4 linked regions of the Homo sapiens genome follow. The protein of the gene in region 1 purifies or fractionates together with the protein of each later gene. This does not show direct contact. Each region holds a gene or a part of one and is shown in the gene's direction. Other genes may lie near its edges.

What was found.
Region 2: the proteins of MED24 (region 1) and CDK8 purify together in Homo sapiens (affinity purification with mass spectrometry; 15 studies listed by BioGRID and IntAct, with this or other methods). This does not show direct contact.
Region 3: the proteins of MED24 (region 1) and MED9 purify together in Homo sapiens (affinity purification with mass spectrometry; 5 studies listed by BioGRID and IntAct, with this or other methods). This does not show direct contact.
Region 4: the proteins of MED24 (region 1) and CDK19 purify together in Homo sapiens (affinity purification with mass spectrometry; 8 studies listed by BioGRID and IntAct, with this or other methods). This does not show direct contact.

What each region holds. Positions count from the first base shown.
Region 1 is NC_000017.11:40,018,573-40,023,410, reverse strand, and holds the end of MED24 (mediator of RNA polymerase II transcription subunit 24), read left to right. Parts: intron 1-15; coding exon 16-280; intron 281-584; coding exon 585-766; intron 767-926; coding exon 927-1,017; intron 1,018-1,356; coding exon 1,357-1,456; intron 1,457-3,057; coding exon 3,058-3,138; intron 3,139-3,477; coding exon 3,478-3,626; intron 3,627-3,765; coding exon 3,766-3,882; 3' UTR 3,883-4,307; downstream 4,308-4,838. UniProt on the Homo sapiens protein: Component of the Mediator complex, a coactivator involved in the regulated transcription of nearly all RNA polymerase II-dependent genes.
Region 2 is NC_000013.11:26,397,109-26,404,141, forward strand, and holds part of CDK8 (cyclin-dependent kinase 8), read left to right. Parts: intron 1-44; coding exon 45-117; intron 118-3,344; coding exon 3,345-3,442; intron 3,443-4,160; coding exon 4,161-4,239; intron 4,240-4,357; coding exon 4,358-4,516; intron 4,517-6,847; coding exon 6,848-6,973; 3' UTR 6,974-7,033.
Region 3 is NC_000017.11:17,479,993-17,487,025, forward strand, and holds part of MED9 (mediator of RNA polymerase II transcription subunit 9), read left to right. Parts: intron 1-7,033.
Region 4 is NC_000006.12:110,616,463-110,623,495, reverse strand, and holds part of CDK19 (cyclin-dependent kinase 19), read left to right. Parts: intron 1-17; coding exon of another isoform or gene 18-108; exon of another isoform or gene 109-127; intron 128-133; coding exon 134-206; intron 207-583; coding exon 584-681; intron 682-1,329; coding exon 1,330-1,408; intron 1,409-2,125; coding exon 2,126-2,392; intron 2,393-7,033.

The sequences.
Region 1 (4,838 bases):
TCGGCCCTCCCCCAGGGTGGTGATCATGAACTCGATCCTGGAGCGCATGTGTGCCGACGTGCTGCAGCAGACAGCCACGCAGATCAAGTTTCCCTCCACCGGGGTGGACACAATGCCCTACTGGAACCTGCTGCCCCCCAAGCGGCCCATCAAAGAGGTGCTGACGGACATTTTTGCCAAGGTGCTGGAGAAGGGCTGGGTGGACAGCCGCTCCATCCACATCTTTGACACCCTGCTGCACATGGGCGGCGTCTACTGGTTCTGCAACAACCTGATTAAGGTACTTGGGCTGGAGTGGCTGTGGGCCGACATGGGTCCTGTCCCCTGGCTCCCCACACCTGGCCTGGTCTGCCAGGCTTCCCTGAGAGGCTGCCGTGAGCCAGGTGGCCTCCCCGGAATGCCTCGCCTCAGAGTTGCCTCCTTGGGGAGCTCTGGCCAGAGACTGGGATTCAGCCTGAGGGGCGGAGCAACATCTGGGGCCCCCTCTGCGGGCCTTACTGGACAGCCATGCTGGGGTGGCAGGGTGTAGGAGCCCCAGATCCCGGGCCCCTGGCTCCTGAACTGCCCCCTTTCCTGCGCACTAGGAGCTGCTGAAGGAGACGCGGAAGGAGCACACGCTGCGGGCAGTGGAGCTGCTCTACTCCATCTTCTGCCTGGACATGCAGCAAGTGACCCTGGTCCTGCTGGGCCACATCCTACCTGGCCTGCTCACTGACTCCTCCAAGTGGCACAGCCTCATGGACCCCCCGGGCACTGCTCTTGCCAAGTAAGATTCTCTTCAGAGCTTGCCCTGCTCCGGCCACCCAGGGTCAAGCACCCCTCGCCTGGTGCCACCCTGGGAGACTGGGCTTTGGGGAGCCCAGTCAGACACAGAAAGCTCCTGGGGCACCTCTCACTGTCCCCCTTTTTCTGGAACCCTTTGCCAGGCTGGCCGTGTGGTGTGCCCTCAGTTCCTACTCCTCCCACAAGGGACAGGCGTCCACCCGCCAGAAGAAGAGACACCGCGAAGACATTGAGGTAGGCCCCCCAGCTGCCCTCGCCGGCTTCACTTGTTCACCGGTTTGTTACAGCATTTCCTAAGGATTCCCCAGGCAAAGGGAAGCAGTTGTGGCCCCTGCCCTTGGGGCAGCTGTGCCTGGGCATGATTGGTCAGGAATCTGCATGGGTGATTTGTGTGGCCCCAGCTTGCCCATGGGCACAAGGGGCCTGTCAGATTGTGGGAGGGGTTGAGCAGAGAGGGGCTGAGGCCCTGCTAGCCATGCTGACCTCGCTCAAATCGGAGCTCAAGCTCTTTTCCCTGACAGCTGGAAACTGGGGGGTTTAGGGGTGTATAACAGTGACTTTCACTCCCTCTAGGATTATATCAGCCTCTTCCCCCTGGACGATGTGCAGCCTTCGAAGTTGATGCGACTGCTGAGCTCTAATGAGGACGATGCCAACATCCTTTCGAGCCCCAGTGAGTGTGTGGGCTGGCCGCGCGCCGCTCCTTTTCCTGGGAATTCACTCCCCGATGCTGCCACTCTGCCGCTGCCCCAGCTGCAGGCATCTTTGCAGCTGGTCAGAGAGGGTGTGGCAGGGACCTGCTGTTCTAGCCCCCAAGGGGGTGCTCTGTGTCCTGCCCCTGGAGAAGAGGTTGCTGTTCTCACTCCCTGAGGGTTGAAGCTCCTCTGCCCAGGTCCAGCCCAGCCCACAGTTGTTCCCCCACAGCCCTCCTGCCCCTCCCTTACCCCAGGGTTGAGGGGATGACAAGCTACCCAAGTGAGTGAGTTCACTGCCTCAGGCACAGCCTGTGCCATTGACTCACCAGCTCTGACCTTCCTTCCTTCCTTCCCCCAAAACATGCCCGGAGAGGCCCGGGCTGGGGCATGGGGCTACTCCCCACCTTCCTGCCTAAAGAGCACACCCCCCACCAACCACTTCCCTGGAGGTCATCCTTTTCACTGTCCCCTCCTCCCTGCCAGGCTTACTGCCAAGGGTTCCTTCTGTGGCATTTTTCCTGTTTCCAGAGATTTCTCCTGAGCCTGAACTTTTCTCTGAAGCCTTTTAGGAACTAGGGGACCAACTATACACTTGATCAGAAGAAAGATGCTAGGTTTGCCAGCTACAAGTGCTGTGACCTTTAGCTAGCGACTGAGCCAGCCCCCGTCTGGGTCTCCTCATCTGTAAATGGGGTGTTGTGAGGAGTAAGCAGCTTAGGAAGTACCAAGATCGGCCCCTGGCCCTGTGTGCTCACCACATGTTAGTTTTTCTCTCTCATTCCATTGGGATCTCTGTATCTGAGGTCCCTCTGTGCCCTTTTTTTGTTTTGTTTTTTGTTTGTTTGTTTGTTTGTTTGTTTGAGTTGGAGTCTCCCTCTGTTGCCCAGGCTGGAGTGCAGTCGCACGATCTCAGCTTACTGCAACCTCCGCCTCCTGGGTTTAAGCAATTTTCCTGTCTCAGCCTCCTGAGTCTCTGGGACTACAGGCGCCTGCCACAACGCCTGGCTAATTTTTGTATTTTTAGTAGAGACGGGGTTTCACCATATTGGTCAGGCTGGTCTCGAACTCCTGAACTCAGATGATCCACCCGCCTTGGCCTCCCAAAGTGCTGGGATTACAGGCGTGAGCCACCACGCCCAGCCTGTTTTTCTGAGACACGGTTTTGCTCTGTTGCTCAGGCTGGAGTGCAGTGGCACCATCTCGGCTCACTGCAGCCTTGTTCTCCTAGGCTCAAGCAGTCTGCCTCAGCCTCCCGAGGAGCTGGGACTACAGGCGTTGGCACCACACCCAGCTAATTTTTGTATTTTTTGTAGAGATGAGGTCTCGCTAGTTGCCAAGGCTGGTCTCAAACTCCTGGACTCAAGCGATCCTCCTGCCTCGGCCTCCCAAAATGCTGGGATTACAGGTGTGAGCCACTGTACCTGGCCTCCCTTTGTGCTCTTGATCTCAGGGTCTTCTCTGGGCTCTCCATGTACCAGTTACCTCCGATGGGTGAAGGTCGGGTTGGGGCATCCCCGGGGAGCACCACTTTTGCACTCGGCAGGCTGTTTCCCAGCGCTCCATCTGCTCCGTCCCACAGCAGACCGATCCATGAGCAGCTCCCTCTCAGCCTCTCAGCTCCACACGGTCAACATGCGGGACCCTCTGAACCGAGTCCTGGGTGAGTTCCCCACCCCTGCTGCCGAACCTGGGGCTAAGCTGGACGAGTCTCTCTTCTCATGGAGGCTGGGAGACCTTGTCAGCTGGAAGGGGCCTTGCGGTGCCCCTCCCTTCCCTCTCCATGCCCCTCATTGTTGGCTGTCCTGGCCCCCAGGCTCCTGTCTAGTTCCCCCTCCTCCCCTCCCCAATTGCCTTTTATATTTTCTCTCTCTGACACCCCATTTTGGGGACATGCTCAGCATGTGTTTCTTTTCCCTTTTCAGTCCCACCTTCTCCCAGAGTGTGACCTCACCCACTCTCATGGAACTCCCTCCTGTCACTCTCCCCCCACTCTCTACAGCCAACCTGTTCCTGCTCATCTCCTCCATCCTGGGGTCTCGCACCGCTGGCCCCCACACCCAGTTCGTGCAGTGGTTCATGGAGGAGTGTGTGGACTGCCTGGAGCAGGGTGGCCGTGGCAGCGTCCTGCAGTTCATGCCCTTCACCACCGTGAGTACCACCTTCCCGGCTCTCCTGCTGGTGCTGGGGCCTCGGGGCAGCCCTTAGAGCAGGGAGGGGCCTCCTTCCCCCTGGGACAGCACACCCACCACCAGCCGTCCCGCAAGCAGCATCTGTCTGTCCGTGGCAGGTGTCGGAACTGGTGAAGGTGTCAGCCATGTCCAGCCCCAAGGTGGTTCTGGCCATCACGGACCTCAGCCTGCCCCTGGGCCGCCAGGTGGCTGCTAAAGCCATTGCTGCACTCTGAGGGGCTTGGCATGGCCGCAGTGGGGGCTGGGGACTGGCGCAGCCCCAGGCGCCTCCAAGGGAAGCAGTGAGGAAAGATGAGGCATCGTGCCTCACATCCGCTCCACATGGTGCAAGAGCCTCTAGCGGCTTCCAGTTCCCCGCTCCTGACTCCTGACCTCCAGGATGTCTCCCGGTTTCTTCTTTCAAAATTTCCTCTCCATCTGCTGGCACCTGAGGAGAGTGAGCAGCCTGGACCACAAGCCCAGTGGTCACCCCTGTGTGCGCCCGCCCCAGCCCAGGAGTAGTCTTACCTCTGAGGAACTTTCTAGATGCAAAGTGTGTATGTGTGTGTGTGTGTGTGTGTGTGTGTGTTTGTGTGTATTTTGTAATATGTGAGGGAAATCTACCTTCGTTCATGTATAAATAAAGCTCCTCGTGGCTCCCTTTGTGACTGTGTGTGCTGTTGGTATTGGTGCCACCCGGGGCAGGGCATAGTGTCCTCTCCCTGGACTCCTGTGCTGTGGCCAGGGAACGGCTCACTCCTGTGGTGAGGAGGAGGAGGAAGAGGAGCAGAGGCGGCAGGGCTCAGGGTCCTATGTGGGCTTGCTCAGCTGGGGAAGGGCCAGGGGAAAGCAGCTTCCCTTCCTTGGAGCCAAGTTGGCTGGCCTGCTGCCCCCTCCCCCAAAGCCAGCTGTACCCTGAAAGGGGAGAGGCTTTGGCTCAGGGCCCCACAGTGCTGGGGCAGGGTGGCCTGCTCTGCTGTCTCCCGAACCTGGTCCAACACCACCCACACTCTGACTAGCCTGGGATTTGATCTGTTGCCTCCAAAAAAGGACTGGGGGATGGGAGGCGGGGGGATGAGGGGCCGGACCTTTCTTTAACCCTTCCTTGCCTGCCTCACACATCTCTGAGCCCCTAGATGGATGACTCCGAGCTGGCAGTGGGAACTTCTGACCCTGCTTTCCGAGGAGCCAC
Region 2 (7,033 bases), on another chromosome or scaffold:
AACCTCAAGTCTAATATAGCTATTTCATAGTATTTCTCTTTCAGGTATACCAACTGCAGCCTTATCAAGTATATGGAAAAACATAAAGTTAAACCAGATAGTAAAGCATTCCACTTGGTAAGCATTGGTTAACAGTATTAATGAAATGCATTTTTTCCTTAATTGACTAGCCCAACTGAGGCTTTTTTGGATCAATTTATGTGGTTACTTAGCTAGCACTCAGAGTGCTTTCATGGTAAATGCAGAGATCTTGTTAGTGCATACCAATAAAGACAATAAACTATTTGCTCTTCCAGACTCATATCATGGTTTGACAGACTAATGTTTGGTCACATTAGATTTTCTAAAGATAGCGATGGTAACAAATCTGTCAAAACATTTATAAAATTACATGTATTGTTTTTCGTCTGTTTAAGATTTTAAAAGTTCCAGAGAAGTATCAAGAAGAAAGTACTTCTCACCATTGATAAATAGATTGTTTTGTATTTCAGCTCTTTGAAAGACTGTTTACAAAGTTCTTAATTTCCAAAATACCTCTTATAACCTTAAATGTTAACAGTCATTCAGCGATTATATGTGCTATTTGATTTTTCTGGAAGAATGTGATAGATGCCATATTTATCAGTGTGTAATGGAAAAATGATTTAACCTAGAATCTAATTGAATCCGTGCACTAACAAGGTAATTTGTGATGAAATTATATACAGCCATTACCAACTTTGTTTACAATAAAATTTCCATTGTTACAGCGTAATAATTAATAATGTTTTTTGTTTTAGAAAAAGGTTTATAACACATAGAAGGGGAGTTTGGGGAAGCAGGTTGTATTTTGCTTGGCTTGAAATTCTTTTAATCCTTATTCCTAAGTTCTTAAATGAGAATTCTTTCACCTTGAAGAGGTTAACCTTTCCTTTATTGCAACCAGGCCATTTGGCAAACATTTCTTCTGTTCTTCCTTTGTTTCTCCTTTTTCTTCGCTTTCTACTGCTTCTCCTTCTGTATTTTCTACTTACTATTATATCAGTTCACATTTTATATCATGTATTTCATATCTTAACAGCAATTTAAAAAGTCATTCTTAACCTGTCATATTACCACACAATATATTATCCAGATAATGGTTTATTATAATGTACTTACAGTAGGACCCAAATTAGAGGTCTAAGTTAGATCCTTCGAAATTATGGACTTACTGATTCTAATAAAATAATGATAGTGGCAGAAGATTAGAAGTCATGACTTAGGGGAATTATTATTCTCCTTGATTCCCTGCTACTCATTATAGTCTAGGATGACTCTGCCTACCATCACCACTAAAACTCTAGAGATATACCTTCCTTGTAGCTTATGTGCTTGTTTTTACCAGGGTGACCCATCTTAATTGGAGGTAATCTTGAGTAGTCTCTTAGGAAAGCCCTATTATAATTCCATTAAAACTGTTGGGTATTTTCAATAGCAAATTCAGGCCTTTCCTTTCAACCCTAAAAATAAAATTGTGCTTTCTCTGAAATATCAGATCATTAAAATTAAATTTTAATCTCACCATTCTAGCGTTTTATTTGCATCTTAAAATATGTCGTGTCGGCCTGGCGTGGTAGCTCACGCCTGTGATCCCAGCACTTTGGGAGGCCGAGGCGGGCGGATCACAAGGTCAGGAGATTGAGACCATCCTGGCCAATGTGGTGAAACTCCTAAAAATACAAAAAGTAGCTGAGTGTGGTGGTACATGCCTGTAGTCCCAGCTACTCGGGAGGTTGAGGCAGGAGAATCGCTTGAACCCAGGAGGTGGAGGTTGCAGTGAGCCTAGATCGTGCCACTGCACTCTAGCCTGGCAACAAAGCAAGACTCTATCTCAAAAAAAAAAAAAAATGTCTTTTTATCCTGTAAAATTTGTCATCTTTCTTTAAGTCTTTTTTGTTGGAGACACAGTTTCATTGTGTCACCAGGCTAGAGTGCAGTGGTGTGATCTTGGCTCACTGCAACCTCTGCCTCCCAGGTTCAAGCCATTCTCATGCCTCAGCCTCCCGAGTACCTGGGATTACAGGCGCCTGCCACCACACCCAGCTAATTTTTGTATTATTAGTAGAGATGGGGTTTCACCATGTTGACCAGGCTGGTCTCGAACTCCTGACCTCAGGTGATCCATCCACCTTGGCCTCCCAAAGTGCTGGGATTACAGGTGTGAGCCACCACACCTGGCCTCTCTTTTAAGTCTTAATGTGTCTGTTAGTTCATTGGTTTTCAAAATGCAGTCTCAGTCCAGCAGCATGGTATCATGTAGGGCCATGTTGGAAATGCAGGCTTTTGGCTCCTACTCACATCTACCAATCAGAAACTCTGTGAGGAGGGCCCAGCAGTCTGTTTTAAGAAGTTCTCCAGGTGATTCTCATGCATCCTAAAGTCCGAAAGCCACTGCATTAGATCAGAGTATAAACTAAGAGACCACATATTAGAATCCAATTGAATGAACTATGTCTTAACTAAAAAATACTGAATCTTCACATTAGTGTGGCATTTATAGTAATAATAACAATAAGAGCAAGCACTTACATAGTACTTTCTTTATGCTAGGCACCATTATAATTGCTCTCCATATATTAACTCATTTAATCCTGAAAACAACCTGTGATAATAGTCACCATTTTTAATCTCCATTTGACAAATGAGGTAACAAAAATATTAAGGTAACTTATCCAATGTCACGCAGCTAATAAATGTTGAGTCAGGATTTGAATGGAGCAGTCGACTTTCAGAGTCTCTGCTCATCACACAGCTCTGTACTTTGTAAGTTGTGTATCACCATTTTTATTTAGACTAGAACAGCACTGCACAGTACCACTTTCTGTGATGATCTGCACAGTGCAGTAGCGTAGCCACTAGCCACATTTGGCTCTTGAAATGTGCCTGGTGTAATGGGGAGATTGACTTTTTTATTTAATTCAGTTTTGATTAACTTGGATCTAAATATGAATCACTGCATGTGTTAGTGTATTATATGTGTAACAACAGCTTTTTTATCTTAATAGAAAAAGAATAGAAAATACACAAATTTTGGTCCTGTTCTAAATTGGATAAAGCCATTTAGATAATGGGGGTGGGGATCCATTTGTTTAGTCAGAGAACATAAGCAAGAGTAAAACAAGTGAGATTATGAAACTGGAATGACTAAAGTGTGAATTACTACATTAAATTTAACAACTAGGAGTTTTGTTGTTAATTTGGGGGAATAAATATTTTCCAAATTGTGATGTTATTCACCAAAAAATATATATCGTCTTCACATATGTGCTGAAAGATAACTGTGAGAAGCAATACCGTCATGTTTGTATGATTTGTGATTTCAGCTTCAGAAGCTGCTTACCATGGACCCAATAAAGCGAATTACCTCAGAACAGGCTATGCAGGACCCCTATTTCTTAGAAGACCCACTTCCTACATCAGAGTAAGTGGCCTAGTTGGTTAACTCATCAGCATGATGGAAGTTTTGGAGTATGCTTTCTTCTGCTTGTCAGCTCTTAAGTTGCTCCTCCTCTTATATGGGAACCCAAGGAAATCCTTTATGACAAGCAAAAATGAGCTTTGCTGATTAAAGTGTCATTTAGGGGCTTTCCAGTTAAGAGGCATTCCTGTTCATCTCTTGCTTTATGAAATGCTGATCACATTAGTTTCAGTAGTGATCCAGCTATTCAGTGACAGGTTGGTTATGCGTGCTGTAGCTCCTTACTGTCTGCAGTTACAGTTTCATGTTCCAAAATTGCAAATATTCCCAAATGTGTTCCCTATACCATCTTTTGTTTTGTTAATAAATGTAGTAGGAAGGGTAAAACAAAAATTACCTTTGAATGGTGACACATACTTCAGCTAGAATCTATATTTGGTCTGTATTAATAGAAGAGTAATGCTGGGATAAAAGAAGAAAGCTGAATCATACTCGATGATTATTGATCATTTGTATACAGCTCAAGCCCTCAAGTAGCCTGCTGTAATATTACTAGTTACAAAGAAAAGATTCGTTTTGTCACAGTTACATGAAAGGTGCTTATATTTGCAAATATGGAGACAAAGTTCATCTTAAAAGATTAAAATGAGAATCTCCTAAATGAAGCATTTGGAATATTGATTAGTATACCAGAAATGGTTTTTCTTTTTCTTATGATCAGCGTTTTTGCCGGTTGTCAAATCCCTTACCCAAAACGAGAATTTTTAACGGAAGAAGAACCTGATGACAAAGGAGACAAAGTAAGTATTAAAGTACTGTTAGCAGCTTCTTGTTTCGTGAATGCCTCCATAACATTTTCCATTGTGGGTATATTTTGTTCTCCCTCTGAGCTGAACTTTTTCTGTTTAACCAATTGAGAAGAACCAGCAGCAGCAGCAGGGCAATAACCACACTAATGGAACTGGCCACCCAGGGAATCAAGACAGCAGTCACACACAGGGACCCCCGTTGAAGAAAGTGAGAGTTGTTCCTCCTACCACTACCTCAGGTGGACTTATCATGACCTCAGACTATCAGGTATTCCAAGTTTATTTTGTATTGACTGCATGTCAGTGTTTACATATGGGTTTATGATCGTGGGAAAATGTGATTTAATTGAGAAATACTGACGTCTGTATACCCAGGGAAATACATTAACATGAAATGTTACTGGCATGGAAAAGTACTGACAGTGGTATGGTAGCAAGGGTTTAGACTTTTGAACCAGACTTGGAATGATCAAATACAAATTATGCCATTTATTAACTGTGTGACCTTGGACAAGTAGGATAATATCTCCTGGCGTTTTTTCATCTGTAAAATGAAACTAGTAAAACCTAACTTGCAGCTGTTGTCAGATTAGACATGAAGTGGCTTGACACCTAGCTTATGGTAGGAGCTTGATAGCTATTGTTTTGGAACAATGTTTCACAGTGATTAAGAACATAGGCTTTCAGATCCCAGTCTGGCCACTTACTTCTCTGTATCCTTGAGTAAGTGATTCAGATGTTCTCAGTTTCCATTTGTAGACTGGATAATGATCAATGTGAAGCTGTAGTAAGGATTAAATGAGATAACTCTGGGAGGTTAAGTGTTGCAGCCATTTCAGGAAACTGAGGCTTGTAGAGGTTAAATAACTTTCACATGGATCCCCAGCAAGCTGTAGATGCAGGACTCATATTTGATCTGACCACAAAGGCTGTTATGTTGCCTGCTTAGGGATCCTATCATGGCATTGTCAGTTACGTTGTGGAAAGACCCTCTTTGAAAATTGTATACCACCTCCTTTTCTCTTCTGCTTATTCTAACCATATTCCCAACTACACAAGGGTTCAGTGTGGGAAGGATACTGAAAATCTGACCAATTAGAATTATTTACACACAAAAAAAAAGAGAGAGAGAAAGAGATGTTATTAAACTGATAAGGTCCCGAGTGCTCGTTACTGTACTTTCAGAATTAGGTATTAACTCTTTCTTTTGGTTAGGGGAGAAGTCCAGCCCATCACACCATGGAAATCACTGTTGTGTGAGTAGTAATTCTCTTCCAGTTAGCTAAACAAGGACACCAAGGGCAGACAGCTGTGGGAGTTGTTGGTTCCAGTATCTTTTTCTTCCTTTCCGGATGGGAAGAGTGCATCTCTCTTGGCCCACAAATGTGTTTGCACACTAAGGTGATGGCATCCTTAGAAGGAAGCAGAGCAGTGCTCTGACCTTCGCTTCTGGAACCGAGAAAATGATGCCATGCTGCTTTGTTGGTGTGATTGTTGTTGGTTTTTTGTGGATGAATTTTAAAATAGTATTTGTGACTATCATTTCATGTGTCCACTCTTTTTAAAAATGTTACCTTTTCTAGGATTGGCAGAATTTGGAATTATATGTCTTATTAAATATGCTTTGAAAGACAGAAGTAATAAGTTCTGGTTAATCTTTTATAGTGTTTGTCTTGGGAGCAAATAGTATGAGAGAGAGGTGTGAGAATGGGAATAATAATCTAACATATCAAAATTAGAGAACCCCAAACCATCACATTCTTTCTCTTTGTGCCATTTTAGAATTGAGAATACCGTCCTTCTTACTGTGGTTATATTTTTACTTTTGTATATAAACTTGTAGCAGAAAATAAGATTCAGTAGCTTAAAGGGGCCAGGCACTGTGGCTCATGCCCGTAATCCCAGTGGTTTAGAAGGCTGAGGGGAAGGATCACTTGAGGCCTGGAGTTTGAAATCAACCTGGGCAACATAGCAAGACTCTGTTCCTTCAAAAAAAATTTTTAAAAATTAGCTGAGCATGGAGGTGCATGCCTATAATCCTAGCAATGATTATACCATTACACTCCAGCCTGGATGATAGAGTGACACCCTGTCTCAAAAGAAAAAAAAAATAGTTTAAAGGGCATAAAAATGTATTAATGCCAAAGAAATGGATTCTGTGATACCTTCTCCTATCATACTCACTTTTACTCTTCAGTCATGTGTGTGGGGGTGAGTTTTCTACTGAAGAAAGCATGTAAATAAGCTTTGAATTTTTTATGTATACATCATTAAGTTTCTGGGTAAACATCTCAAGCAAATTTACCAAGTAGATACAAAACAGCATAAAAAGGGGTTACTCCTGTAGAAAAAAATGTATTTGCACAGCATAGTAATAAGCCTAGGCTTAATATTATTTACTAGCAATATTTCTGACCTTCCTCAAGAGAAGAGGATGTTAAAATATTTGGGGTTTTTGTCTTTAATTATAAAGTTAGTACATAGCACAAAACCTATACATCCTTTCTTCCTTGAAACATAATGACACTTCAGTCACATATTGGGATTGAGCTTCCCCTAGAAGCACCTGAATCACACTTTTCCCTCATCTCCTTTCCAGCGTTCCAATCCACATGCTGCCTATCCCAACCCTGGACCAAGCACATCACAGCCGCAGAGCAGCATGGGATACTCAGCTACCTCCCAGCAGCCTCCACAGTACTCACATCAGACACATCGGTACTGAGCTGCATCGGAATCTTGTCCATGCACTGTTGCGAATGCTGCAGGGCTGACTGTGCAGCTC
Region 3 (7,033 bases), about 23 Mb from region 1:
ATTACTTGGAAGTCTGTTTAAGAAGCAGGTCCCCACAGTCCTGTCCCACCTCCCATCCCCTCCAAGCGGCCGGGTGACTACCCTTCTTCCAACTTGGCAGATGGTTAAAAGGTTACTCTCCCGAGATTTATTCTTAGGAAGGAATAAGCCAGAGAGTACCTTGACTGTGGGACACCAGGCACACTGCAGGGGTAGGTAGGGGGAGCCATACTGAAAAGAGGGATTAAGAGAAAGTTCACAGTCTGAAGAGAGACACCACCCGAGCCTTCCCCCACCTGGCTTCTAGATTGGCAGCCAAAGAGAGTGGAAGTGCCCTCTCTATGGTGCGTGACCAATTAAGAGAAAAGACATTGGAAAAAAAAAAAGCCTAGTCAATTAATTCTGAGAAAATGAACAAGCATCACTCATTTGCAGAGCTTCCACTAAGCCTTTTAGTGTTTTATTCTTAAATATATGAGTGGATGGCCAAGGTCACTAAGCATAGGAAGAAACCCCCTGGTAAGAAAGACACGGGTCAGGCGCGGTGCCTCATGTCTGTCTGCAAGCCCAGCACCTGGGCAGGCTGAGATGGGAGGATAGCTTGAACCCAGGGAGCTGAGGCTACGGTGAGCCATGATCGCACTGCTACACTTCAGCCTGGGTGACATAGACTCTGTCTCAAAGAAGAAAGAAAGAAAGAGAGGAGACAGAGAGAGAGAGGAAAAAAGAGAAAGACAAGACAGAAGAGCAGAAAAAGCCACGTGGAGGAAACAGTAGCCACAAAGGAATGGAGTGGTTCTGCAGCTGTAAACATGAGAAGAGGCTAGGATCCAACCTGCAAACCTTCAGTATAGGCGTGTCTTTGAGTTTATAGGCAAATGAGGGAGGAATAAGGGCAGAGGAGGAAGGGAGAGGAGACCTCGTGAAGCCTGGGGGAGTCAGAAGGCTTGGTAAGAGTGATGCCAACAATGAGTCTTCAATTAGGAAAGGGAGGCAGGAGGAATGTTGGTATAGGAAAAACATGTAAGGACACGAAGCCAAGAAATAGCATCTACTCATGGGAGTCAGCTTCTAGCTTGGTGGTGTTGAGCATACATCCAAGGCAGGAAGAGGTGGCTGGGGAGGAGGGAAGAGCCAGGAAACAGAGTGCAGGTGTCTTCTGAGGGATGGGGAGCTAGTGAAACTGTCAGGCTGGAAGCCAGTCAAGACACAGTACTGGCGGGTGGAGATGAGGGCTGGGACCATGTCCGGTCCACCCAGGTGGCGCTCTCTGGCCCTGGGTCCCTTCCTTTCCTATAACTTCCCCAATGATCCTTTTATTCTTTGTTTACTTCTTGCACAGGGGTGAGTAAGGAGGTAAAATCTGAAGTAGTGAATTTAGCCTTTCTTGTTCTCATAAAGAATTCAGAGTTTTTGAAAAATTATTTAATAAAAGTAACAACTGCAAGTTTAGAAGTACAGAGAAACGTAAAATGGAAAATGTGTTCCTTCCCCCAAGTCCCCTCACCTGTAGTAACTGCTGTTAATACTTTCCTAAGTTCCTTCTGGGAATTACATATGAATGTCATTTCAAAAATTTATACAAATTGAGATCACGTCGTACTTGACTTTTTTCACTGATTAGTCTCTTTTGGCCACCTTTCCATACTGCACATAAAGATCTACCTCATTAAGGCAGCTGCAGAAAATTGCATCTTGTGGATGCAGCATAACTGATGGAACTGGTTTTCTGTTGATGGTCTTCTAGCTGTTTTTCTTATTCTTGCTATTACCAGCACAGTGCTGGGGTTAGCATCTTTGTGTAGGAGTAAGTTTATGATCAGATAAATCCCAGCAGTAGAATTGCTGGGGCATAGGGTACAAACATTTTTTATAGTGATAGTTATGCTAAATTTAGAGCACTACGTCTTTTTAGCTAACTCTTTTCCAAAATTCAGTCCTTGTAGACTAGACTGCTTCAGTTAACCTAAAATGGCCTATAAATCTGCCACCCAGAAAGCATTAAACAAAAATTAAAGTTGTAGACGGATTCTACAAGTACCCATGGATATGAAATGGAAACAGGGCCTCTCCCTTCACTCCTCCCAGCTCCCTTGCAAAGCTGTGTAATATTCCACTTTATGAACGTGCTGTCGTTTATGTAAACAGTTTCTTGCTCAAGGACACCGTCATTGTTTCTGCATTTTGCTGTTGGAATCAGCACTGCAGCAAGCATCTTTGCCCATGCTATCTTGGTGAACTCTTGGTAGTCTCTGTGGGGGTAAATTTCTAGCAATGGGATATGTGAATCTGTTTGGGTCACTATGAGCAAAGAATGCCCTGATCTATGCTTCCACCAACAGTTTTTGTGTCTTTCCCCATCACCTGCCATCACCATTAAACTTTTAACTTTGGCAAATCTCATAGGTCAGAAATGATATATTGATCTTTCATTAAGTTAGGTAAAGCATCCCTTCATAGGCGATTTTATATGTCACTTTTATTTTTCCCTATAAACTGTCCATTTCTCTGTTAGATTTTTTTATGTACAGAAAGGAAATAATGTGTGTCAAATGTACTGTAAATACTTCCTCCAGGTTGTTGCTTTTCTTTTGACTTTGTTCATAGTCATGGTTTTTCTATTTGTTTTTCATTCAGATGCATATAATTTCATGTAGTCAGATTTGTTAGGCCTTTCCCTTATGGCTTCTGAGTTTTGGTCCTACTTAGAAAGGCTTTCCCACTCTAAAATTATAGGTATTGATCTCTTTTTTCTAGAACTTTCATGGTTCCATTTTTTACTTGTAATTCTTTGAGGCTCCTGGAATTTATTTTGGTGGGAAGAATAAGGGGGCCTCGGTTAGCCACATCTTCCCACTGCTGTTTTTGAATATTTGTTATTTTCCCTGCTTGCAGTGCCACCTTTACCATGCACTGAATTCCCACATGTTTTCTGATCTACTTATGGACATTCTCTCCTTCTCCAGCACCAAACTATTTTAGTTCTTAAATCTTCATGGTACATTTAATTATCTTTTAAGGTTAATTTTTCACCCTTCCTCTTTCTTGTCAGTATTTCCCTGGCCCTTCCTTTCCCGTGGAGTTTTCTAGCAGCCTGCCTGATGCTAGATCATGATGCTTTTGTTAATGGAACATTTCGTCTTTAATCTGCTTCTTTACTTCCAAGCCTGTTGATACTACTCATTGGCCAGGTCGTTGAGCCTCGCTTTTGAGTATTATAATCAGCATTTAATTAGTCTCTTTGCCTTTATGCTTATTTTATCTTGTGAATGTTATTTGGCTAATTTTTCTTTGTTCTCCATTCTTCTCAAATTGAGCCCAAACTTAGGCCTTTACTCAGGGATCTCTGCAGACCATTTTCAGATTGTCTGCCTGAATAACCCAACACAAAGCCCACAGAGGGTCCTCTTGCTGCAGGTGCTGTTGGGTGGGCGGAGTCCTCCAGGCTGGCAGACCCTCCAGCCCCTCCACTAGAAGTGCCCACAGAAATGCTGCACAGAGCCCTGTGAACCAGAGCCTCTCCTGTACCCCCAGGGACCCACCTGGTTCTGGGAGTGCTCTGGCTGGGACAGCCCTGCTTGGAGTTGGAACCCATAGCACTTTCATCTCTTCTAGTGTCTTTCCCGCAGTTGAATGAAAAATTAAACTACACATTTATGTTATTTTTAAAGAATGAGGAAAGGGAGGCTGGGCACGGTGGCTCACACCTGTAATCCCAGCACTTTGGGAGGCCGAGGCGGGTGGATCACGAGGTCAGGAGATCGAGACCATCCTGGCCAACACGGTGAAACCCTGTCTCTGCTAAAAATACAAAAATTAGCTGGATGTGGTGGTGCACGCCTGTAATCCCAGCTACTAGGGAGGCTGAGGCAGGAGAATCGCTTGAACCCGGGAGGCGGAGGTTGCAGTGAGCCACGATCGCACCATTGCACTCCAGCCTGGCGACAGAGCGAGACTCCATCTCAAAAAAAAAAAAAAGAATGAGGAAAGGGAAAAGAAATCCCATTTTCATGCCTATAAGAAATATTATAAATCCCAACTTTGAGACTTTCTTGATATATATAGATGCTACATTTTAAAAATGCATCATAAAGGAGTAATGAAATGGGGTCTGTTAGATTGGGGAAAATTATTATTTTTTCCTTCAAACTTAACAAATTTGAATCTGAGTTTGGAATGAAGTAGCTCAGCCTAGGCCTTCTGAATTACAGTTGTTGCTGCCTTGCGTGATGGTTTTGGCTCACTTTGTAAGAGTAATCTGTCGACATTGGGTACTTTAAAAACATTTTTTAAATTCAATGTTTTAATTCTTTACAAGGTCTAAGGCTGCTAGGTAGGTAGAGGGGAGCCGTCCTTGCCACCACAGATGGGGCTCAAGTGATGAGCACGCTGTCTGGCCCCTCCAGCTTGGCCTGGCCGCTTCAGCAGGTCAGCAAGACCTCAGAGCCCCAGCCAGACCTCTTTTGTGGGAACAGGGTGTTATTGACTGTCTTCTTCCCACTCAAGTATCTATTTTAATCTGCCCTGGCCTTCCATGCCAGCTGAGACCCGTTCCCGGGTTGTGCAGGAAGCGGCCCCCGCTAAGTGCCCACACTGGCTTCCCGGGGATAGTCCGCATGCAGTTACTGCAGGCCTCTGCCGTTCACTTTCTTCTCCCTCAGCCACACCCCAGGGAGCAGGATGAGCAGCCACAGATAGGGGGTGTTCATAGACTGCTCAGATGAGGTGTTTCCAGTCTGCCTAAAAGCCTCTTCACTCCTCTGCCATGTCATTTCCATCCACTCAGTATGACTTATAACCAGAAGGTGGGCCCCAGCAGAGGCAAGCCCCACGAAGGCAGGCCTTCGCGAGTCAGCACTTCCTTAGTGGGCGTGAGAAATGCCAGGCAAGCATTTACGTGGGTCCTGGGAAGGGTGGGAAGCTTTGCCTAGGAAGGCTGGAAGCACTTGTGGTGGCACTGGGGGGGTCTCCTTCACAGTTTGAATTTGCCTGAAAGGTGTTATCTGTGGGTAGGAGGCCATCTGGAATTATTTTATTTTATTTTTTATTTTTGAAATGGAGTCTCACTCTGTCGCCCAGGCTGGAGTACAGTGGCGTGTCTTGGCTCACTGCAATCTCTGGCTCCCAGGTTCACTTGAATCACTTGATTTCCGTGCCTCAGCCTCCCAAGTAGCTGGGACTACAGGCACACGCCACCATGCCTTTGTAAAAAACAAAACAAAAAAAAATTGTATTTTTAGTAGAGACAGGGTTTCGTCTCTGTCTACAGGCACACGCCACCACGCCTTTGTAAAAATACAAAAAAAAATTTTTTTTTTGTATTTTTAGTAGAGACGGGGCTGGCCTCAAGTGATCTGCTGACTTCAGCCTCCCAAAGTGCTGGGATTACAGGCGTGAGCCACCGGCCGCCATCTGGGATTTTTAAGCAGCATAGTGACCTGCTCAGACTTGGGTTTCTAAAGGTAGGTGGGGCAGAAGTGTTTCAGAAGAGGGGAGGACCTGGGTCCACAGGAAGGCAGTGGCAATGGGAGGTGGCTGGTCTAGAGGAGATGGAGCTGGCAGGATGGTGGCTGGAAGAAGGGGGCACACAGGTGCAAGCCTGGGGGTCCTAGCGTGGCCAGTAGAGTGTGTAGGTGGGACTGCACCCTCCCCCCGTCCCCTGCTGACAGCAAGTCTATGCTGGATATTTGCCATCTGCCAGACTCCAGGCAGGAATGACTTGGTAACTGTGGAGGGAGGAAACTCAAGTACAGGAAGGAAGGCTGACTGGGGAGGTGGTCCCCGTGTCGAGGGTTCGGGAGTGGATGAACACGTTCTGGGCATTTTGTAGTGCAGTGATTTTCATACTCCGTTTAGCAGCAGCACCTTTTGTCACTCTTTGCTAAAAAGAATATTTTTTACATGTAATGCTGTTAGCAGATGAAAGCAAGGGTGTGAGTTCAAGGCCTCCCTCTCCGGAAGGCCTCATAGGTCTTGGCAGAACTGGAGCAGAGAAACACAGTTGATAGGTAAGTAGTAGCCAGTATCATCCAGGGCGGGATGGAGAAGTGTGTCCTCCGTGGCTACAGATAATCTACATCAGTACAGTTTTTTTTTTGGAGGGCATTTTGGTAATATCTGTCAAAAATTTAAATATATATAACCTTTGACCCAGAATCCCTACTTTTAGAAAATGATCTTACCAAAATACTTGCACAAGTGAGAGGTGACAGCGTGCTGGCAGTCCTCAGAGCCCTCACTTGCTCTCGGCACCTCCTCTGCCTGGGCTCCCACTTTGGCAGCACTTGAGGAGCCCTTCAGCCCACCACTGCACTGTGGGAGCCCCTTTCTGGGCTGGCCAAGGCTGGAGCCCACTCTCTCAGCTTGCAGGGAGGTGTGGAGGGAGAGGCGCGAGCGGGAACCAGGGCTGCGTGCGGCGCTTGCGGGCCAGCTGGAGTTCCGGCTGGGCGTGGGCTTGGCAAGCCCCGCACTCGGAGCAGCCGGCCAGCTCTGCTGGCCCCGTGCAATGAGGGACTTAGCACCCGGGCCAGCAGCTGCGGAGGGTGTACTGGGTCCCCCAGCAGTGCCAGCCCACCGGCGCTAAGCTCGATTTCTCGCCAGGCCTTAGCTGCCTTCCCGCGCAGCAGGGCTCGGGACCTGCAGCCCGCCATGCCTGAGCCTCCCACCCACTCCATGGGCTCCTGTGCGGCCCCAGCCTCCCTGACGAGCACCACCCCCTGCTCCAGGGCGCCCAGTCCCATCAGCCACCCAAGGGCTGAGGAAAGCAAGCGTACGTGCAGGACTGGTAGGCAGCTCCACCTGCAGCCCCGGTGCGGGATCCACTAGGTGAAGCCAGCGGGGCTCCTGAGTCTGGTGGGGACGTGGAGAGTCTTTATGTCTAGCTCAGGGATTGTAAATACACCAGTCAGCACCCTGTGTTTAGCTCAAGGTTTGTGAGTGCACCAATCTACACTCTGTATCTAGCTGCTCTGGTGGGGACGTGGAGAACCTTTATGTCTAGCTCAGGGATTGTAAATACACCAATCGGCACTCTGTATCTAGCTCAAGGTTTGTA
Region 4 (7,033 bases), on another chromosome or scaffold:
TGTTTCTTCTTATTCAGAAAAAACAATGACTTAAACACATACCTTATAGGAAAGCCAATCCTGGAGCTTATCATTAAGAAATATCAATTGGATGAGTGTTCCCAGTGATGTGTGACTGTGCGTGTCCTTGCAGGTATGCCAACAGTAGCCTCATAAAGTACATGGAGAAACACAAGGTCAAGCCTGACAGCAAAGTGTTCCTCTTGGTAGGTGCTTCTCTCCCAGACTAAAATCTGATTCTCAGCACAAATCTCGCCTTCTATTTACTCAGCTATTCCTCCTCTTTAGAAACAAAAGAAATTAGTGGATGCTGGGGTAAAATTAAATATTTTTTTTGTTGAGATGTCACCCTGTCTTTCAGCCTTCACTTTAAATGATTTATCAGCAGAAAATGAACTTTATAAGGGCTTTAATGCTGATGATTTCTGCCAATTTCACATAAAAGTATGTAGTATGCATAATCTGCAGTGAGCTACACCAAATGTATTTTATATTAATCCTGTTACACAGTAATACAAAAGACAAGGTGTTGACTTGTAAATAACCTTTTCATGTGCTGTACATTTCCTGTGTGTCACTCTAGCTTCAGAAACTCCTGACCATGGATCCAACCAAGAGAATTACCTCGGAGCAAGCTCTGCAGGATCCCTATTTTCAGGAGGACCCTTTGCCAACATTAGAGTATGTATCCTGTCTTTTCTGTGTCCTTTGCTCCAGGCTGAGGAGGCTGCATGGTGGTTGAAAGCAAGGGAAGCACTTGCTACTGAAGTATTTAACTTTTTCAATGATACCACCTAAAGACTGCTCAAGAGCAAGCTTCCACATTTTGAAACAGGCAAAGCTGCAGAGAGGGATGAATGAAAACAAGTATTTTAGGAACGACCATTTGTCAGTTTTACAGATGAAAACTAAAGCTGATAACAGATAAGACCTTTACAGACCAATTGGCCAGATCAGAAATTCAGCCAAACCAGTAGGCAACAGAAGTTAATCTGTCTTTCAGAGCATGTCCACTGCACTACAAAACCTCTCTACTCCTTCATCCTTCTTAACCCCAAGTATAGACTTTGTGTTTTCATCTATAAGAGGTGTAGTTTTTCTTGTTAAGGCAAATACAAATTAAGTTATTTTTGGCGCTAATGAAGTTAGTATAGAGAAACTTCTGTGTCCTATATGTCAACTAGCTAGCAGCAGTCAAGATTTGAACACTAGCCACAGATGAAGAGTAGGAAATAAGTGAAGAAAAACAAATTGGAATTTTAAATTAACAAGGTAATGATATTACAGATTTTAGATCATGATATGTTTTTTCTTTTTAATGATTTTTAGTGTATTTGCCGGCTGCCAGATTCCATACCCCAAACGAGAATTCCTTAATGAAGATGATCCTGAAGAAAAAGGTGACAAGGTATAAACTGCACGGTATACTTTCACTTCCAAAGAGCAAGGGAGGCAAAAAGATAGTTTAGGTATCGTTCCATAATTCCTATACATTTAACCACCTTTTCTAATATTTAATTAAATTTGAATGTATCTTATTTTCTGTGGAAGTTTGGGGATTGTAAAGGTACCTTGAAGTTTGAAGTATGACCAGCTCACAGATACCTGAGCTTCCGGTGTGTGTTACAGCCAGTTCTACTCCCGGATTCCCACTTCTTGCTCTTTCTGTTTGTTTGGTGTCACTACCACCCCTTTATGCAGGCTGGCTTTTGCTAGCATCACTCTGTTCTTTCGTCTTAACTGGATATATTGGCTCACTCTCCAGACCGCTCTGCCTTTCCAGAATCACGATTGAAAAGATTTCTTCTAGCTGTTTTAATGAGCTATAAGAAATGTATTTCTAATGTGCCTGTGGCCTTCAGTGAGATGTCTGTGACTGATTTGGAGGATCACTGTGCAGTCTAAATGAACTTCAGGGAAAGAGTCCTGTTTGGGGCTCAGCGCCTTGCCCTTTGGGAACACTGTGTTCCCTGGCTGCTCCATTCTCCAGTCCTCCCCATCACTCTAGTGTCCCACATAGATTGCTCCCCCAGGTTGGTCAGCAGCCACATGTGCATATCAAATAATTAAAGAAAGCTCCTGTTAATTTGGTTTCATACCAAGCTTGCTTTTTTCCCCTTAAAAGAATCAGCAACAGCAGCAGAACCAGCATCAGCAGCCCACAGCCCCTCCACAGCAGGCAGCAGCCCCTCCACAGGCGCCCCCACCACAGCAGAACAGCACCCAGACCAACGGGACCGCAGGTGGGGCTGGGGCCGGGGTCGGGGGCACCGGAGCAGGGTTGCAGCACAGCCAGGACTCCAGCCTGAACCAGGTGCCTCCAAACAAGAAGCCACGGCTAGGGCCTTCAGGCGCAAACTCAGGTGGACCTGTGATGCCCTCGGATTATCAGGTACTCCCTGAATGTCTAATGTTCATATGCTTTATGAAGTGGGGAAAAGATTTATCCTAGATCCTTTTAGAGTTAAGTAACACTTAACTCTTACATTTGACTGTGCAATCCTGTTTCTAGGGCATTCTATGAAGAGGAAGATTTTCATCATATTTCATGTAATTGTAAGATATCTCGTATTCTGACTTGTTTATCCTGACACCCGAGGAGAGGAAGGTAGGGAGGCCAGTGCCCCCATCCTTAAAGAAAATTTCATCATTTTACCCTTATAGCTGCCTTAGCAGTTCTGGTGTATCAGAAAAAGATACGTAGATACGCAGTTGAAAAGGGAAGGGGAGTGGTGTCTTACTTTGGACAAAATTAATTGCATTCTTTAGAAAGATATGCTCTTTCTGGGAGGAAGTAGCTACATAGATAAAGAAGAGAAGGGGGCTAAGACTGAGGCTTTTCTGAAATAACTGTTAAGTCTCATTAGAAATAATTTTGAGACTAGAAAATACTTTTTGTTATTCAGATAAAAAGAGAACACCAATTGCAGTGCTAATTCAGGAAATTAAAGGAGCTAAGTCTAAGGATTGGTATTTGGAGAGAGGTAAAAATACCCATTGTGATAACCATAGGAAATTTTGAAAAAAAAATTTTTTTTCAAGGTAGTAACAAGTTAAGAAACCATCTAGGAAGAAGGGAAAACTTAAGTTTTTTGTTTGTTTGTTTTTTTGTTTGTTTTAAGTTTAGAACCACAGTCCCTCCGGGAACTCTTGCAGATGAGTGCATAGGATAGAGATAATAGAAAACAAAACCTCTGGCAAGGGAACCATAAACTCACTGATAAGGAACTGCAATAAAGAGAAACTTTAACAAGAAAGACATAACAAATAGCTGCATAAACTGCCTTCACATTTTGAATAGCTCAACAAACTAATGTGTTTCCACACAACTACTCTGAAAAACTTCTCTTCAGAATATCCCTGCAAGCAGAAGAGTACATAATACTTCCACTTGGTTCCAATTAAACAAATTTAGGCTTCAGTTTGATCTACTAAAAACAGCTTGCTAGCTGGGTAGTAGCATGAGCATATTTGAATTTTGTTATAAAATCTGTTTCCCCTCCATTATATGAGCAACAAATGCTTACTATATACTGGTTCATCTTTGTGTGTCTGATTGAATTATATTAACCTGTGTTAAAAAATAATAATAATTTGCCTAAACACTTGTTAAAGTTGGTAAGGCAGACTTTATTCAAGGCGGGGCCATGTTAGTGCATAAAGGGACCACTGCAACAGGGGCTGGCAGTTGGGGAGGAAGACTGGACTCAATTCAGACTCCTACATGACAAGTGGAGAGGTATAGCCAAAGAGCAGGGTGGGGATCAGTGGATGGAAAGTTACCAAGAGGAAACATCCAGGATAAAAGGTCTCTGGCTAAACTGACTGCATAGTATTAGGCTGAAGGGAGGCCTGGGTAATAAGCTTTTAAAGGTGGGGGATTTTTGCCAAGCCAACTTAGCAAGATTCTTGCTCTAACAGGATTCTCCAAGGACAGAGGAAAGCCCAAGGTCAGGCCTAGTCAAGCAGAAGACTCACAGAGCTCCCTCCAACACGACCCTGTAAAACTTCCCTCCAGCCTCTTTGCAGACAACACCTCCTCTACTGTGCTGCCCCAGGCAACAACATGTTTTCATACCTTCTGTAATAAACCTGCCTTTCTTTACCCAAAACCATCTTGGTTAAAACCTTGACTGCCTGAGAGCAGCCTGACTGCAGTTTTTGTCAAAGGAAAGAGTCTTTGTCACCCAATTGTAGTCAATTATAGACAGATTACTGTATTTCTTTTTTTCCCCAAATTCAAACATTCTTTGAAATGCTTTTCTATGTCCATATTGTTCTGTTGACTTAAAAATAAACCTTTCATAGCTGAGTCCTGATGTCTGTGGAAAAAAATAATAAACCTTCCAACATATCTATTAAATGAATAGATACAGCTATTTAGTTGGAGAGACTGGCATGAGGGGCAGTCAGGTGTCCCATTACACCGAACTTGCAACTCATACACCATCTAGGGGCCAAGGGAAAAACTTTCCTTTCACTCTCTGAAAGTTCGCTGAAAAATCAACTCACAAAAGGCAGGTTAATTGGAGAAAATGTCATGGGTGTGACTAGCTAGGGCCAGTGTCTCAGGCAGTCAAGGTTTTTACTAAGAGTTCTGGGTAAAGAAAGGCAGATTTATTACAGAATGTATGAAAACATGTTGTTGCAACAGACAGCATAGCAGAGGGAGGGGCTGTCTGCAAAGAGCAGGGGCTGGAAGGAAGTTTTACAGGGTCTTGCGGGAGGGAGCTATGTGCCAAATGAGGTCATTGTGCCCACCAGTTGTTTGTGACTAGCAGTGTCTCAGAACAATTGTTCATTGTTTTTCCCCACCTGGAGCCCCTTCCTCCTTGTTGCTTACTTATCAGGACAGAAAGGCATACAACTTTGATACCAGTGGGCTGAGGGAGGTCCCCAGATGCTGGTGGGACCTCAACCCCACCCTGTGTCCAGGCTCCTAACACCATCGGGAGAAGGAATTAAAGGATGAGTCAAAAATAGCAAAAGTATGGAGATTTATTGCAGAGGGAAAAGTACACAACTCAAGAAAGGGGAGTGTGGGTATACGCAAGAGAGAATCTGGCTGGGGACAGTGGCTCATGCCTGTAATCCCAACACTTTGGGAGGCTGAGGCGGGTGGATCACCTGAGGTCAGGAGTTCAAGACCATCCTGGCCAACATGGCAAAACCTCGTCTCTACTAAAAATATAAAAATTAGCTGGTTGTGGTGGTGCAAGCCTGTAATCCCAACTACTTGGGAGGCTGAGGCAGGATAATTGCTTGAACCTGGGAGGCAGAGGTGCAGTGAGCCGAGATCGCGCCACTGCACTCCAGCCTGGGTGACAGAGTGAGACTCCATCTGAAAAAAAATAAATGAATAGAGAGTCATGCAGTCTGGTTTGGGTTTCTATCTTTATGGGTTTCTTTAACCAAAGGGTGGAATATTCATGAAAATTCCTGGAAAAAGGGGGAGATTTCTTGGAACTGTGGTGCCACCCATTTTTATGCCAAATATGGATGTTCTTGGAACTGTCATGGTGCTGGTGAGTGTGTGATTTAGAATGTTAATGAGCATATAATGATGTCCTAGGTTTTTAAGCAGAAATTCAAAGTGTGTTTCATGTAGTCTTTTTTTTTTTTTTTTTTTTTTTTTTTTTGAGACAGAGTCTCACTGTGTCACCCAGGCTGGAGTGCGGTGACGTGATCTTGGCTCACTACAACCTCCACCTCCTGGGTTCAAGTGATTCTCATGCCTCAGCCTCCCAAGTAGCTGAGACTACAGGCATGTATCACCACTCCCGGCTAATTTGTGTGTGTGTGTGTGTGTGTGTGTGTGTGTGTGTGTGTGTGTATATATATATAAATAATTTTATTATTATTATTATTTTTTTAAGTAAAGACAGGGTTTCGCCATGTTGGTCAGGCTGGTCTCAAACTCCTGACCTCAAGTCATCCACCTTCCTTGGCCTCCTAAAGTGTTGGGACTACAGGCGTGAGCCACTGTGCCCGGCCAGAAATTGTCCATTTTTATGGTTTAGGGTCAACAAAGTGTAGACAGCCATGTAGAAACATGATTGGACAGAAGGGGTATGATCTGATGCTAATAGACTGAGGGGGAAACCCAACATGGCCTGTCTAGGTTCCTGTTGGTCTCTCTAAGCGTGCATTCCTGCCTCTGGGTGTGGGGCAGGACCCCCTCTGGGACAGGAGTCTCATGACCTACAGTCAGACAGGATATGCCAGATCATTTCTTTATGTCCAGTTTTTACACAGAAAGGTAGGGGGAAGTTAGAGTAATATTTTTAGGTTTCACAGCTGGTGTTGGGGAAGTGGGGTTCTGGTTTCTATGGCTTGCCTTAGGGAAGGGGAATTCTAGTTTCTATGGCTGGCTCTGAGGAGAATGGGACTGTGAGACAAGAGGGCACAAAAAGGTCAGAGAAAAACTTTTGCTCCTGAGGCCTTCATTTTGGGGTATTGTTTTCTGTGCCCCAACAGTTCCATTAGTAGAGTTTCAAGGCTTTTGAGCTGCTTCATCAATGTATTGTAAGCAAGTACAATTAGCGCTTTGAAAAGCGGGACATTGGCTTATTTTCTGTCTAAAAAACCCTTTGTCATTAAAAAAGCTATGTTACAGCACATTAGATTCTTACATGTTTACATTATACTTTATGGCAAAATTGCCCCAAATAACGTATGAGTTGAAAGAACATTTTTCATAATAAACTTCAAAATAAAACACGTAATTAAAATTTGGAATTTTTAAAGACTTCTGTAACCAATGTGACTATTCAGTTGTGCAACTTAGGAAGGGGCAAAACTAAGTTTTGTTTTGTTTTTTTTTTTTTGAGATGGAGTCTCCCTCTGTCGCCCAGGCTAGAGTGCAGTGGCGCCAATCTTGACTCACTACAACTTCTGACTCCTGGGTTCAAGCGATTCTCCTGCCTCAGCCTCCCGAGTAGCTGGAACTACAGGGACCCACCACCATGCCTGGCTAATTTTTGTATTTTTAGTAGAGATGGGGTTTCACCATGTTGGCCAGACTGGTCTTGAA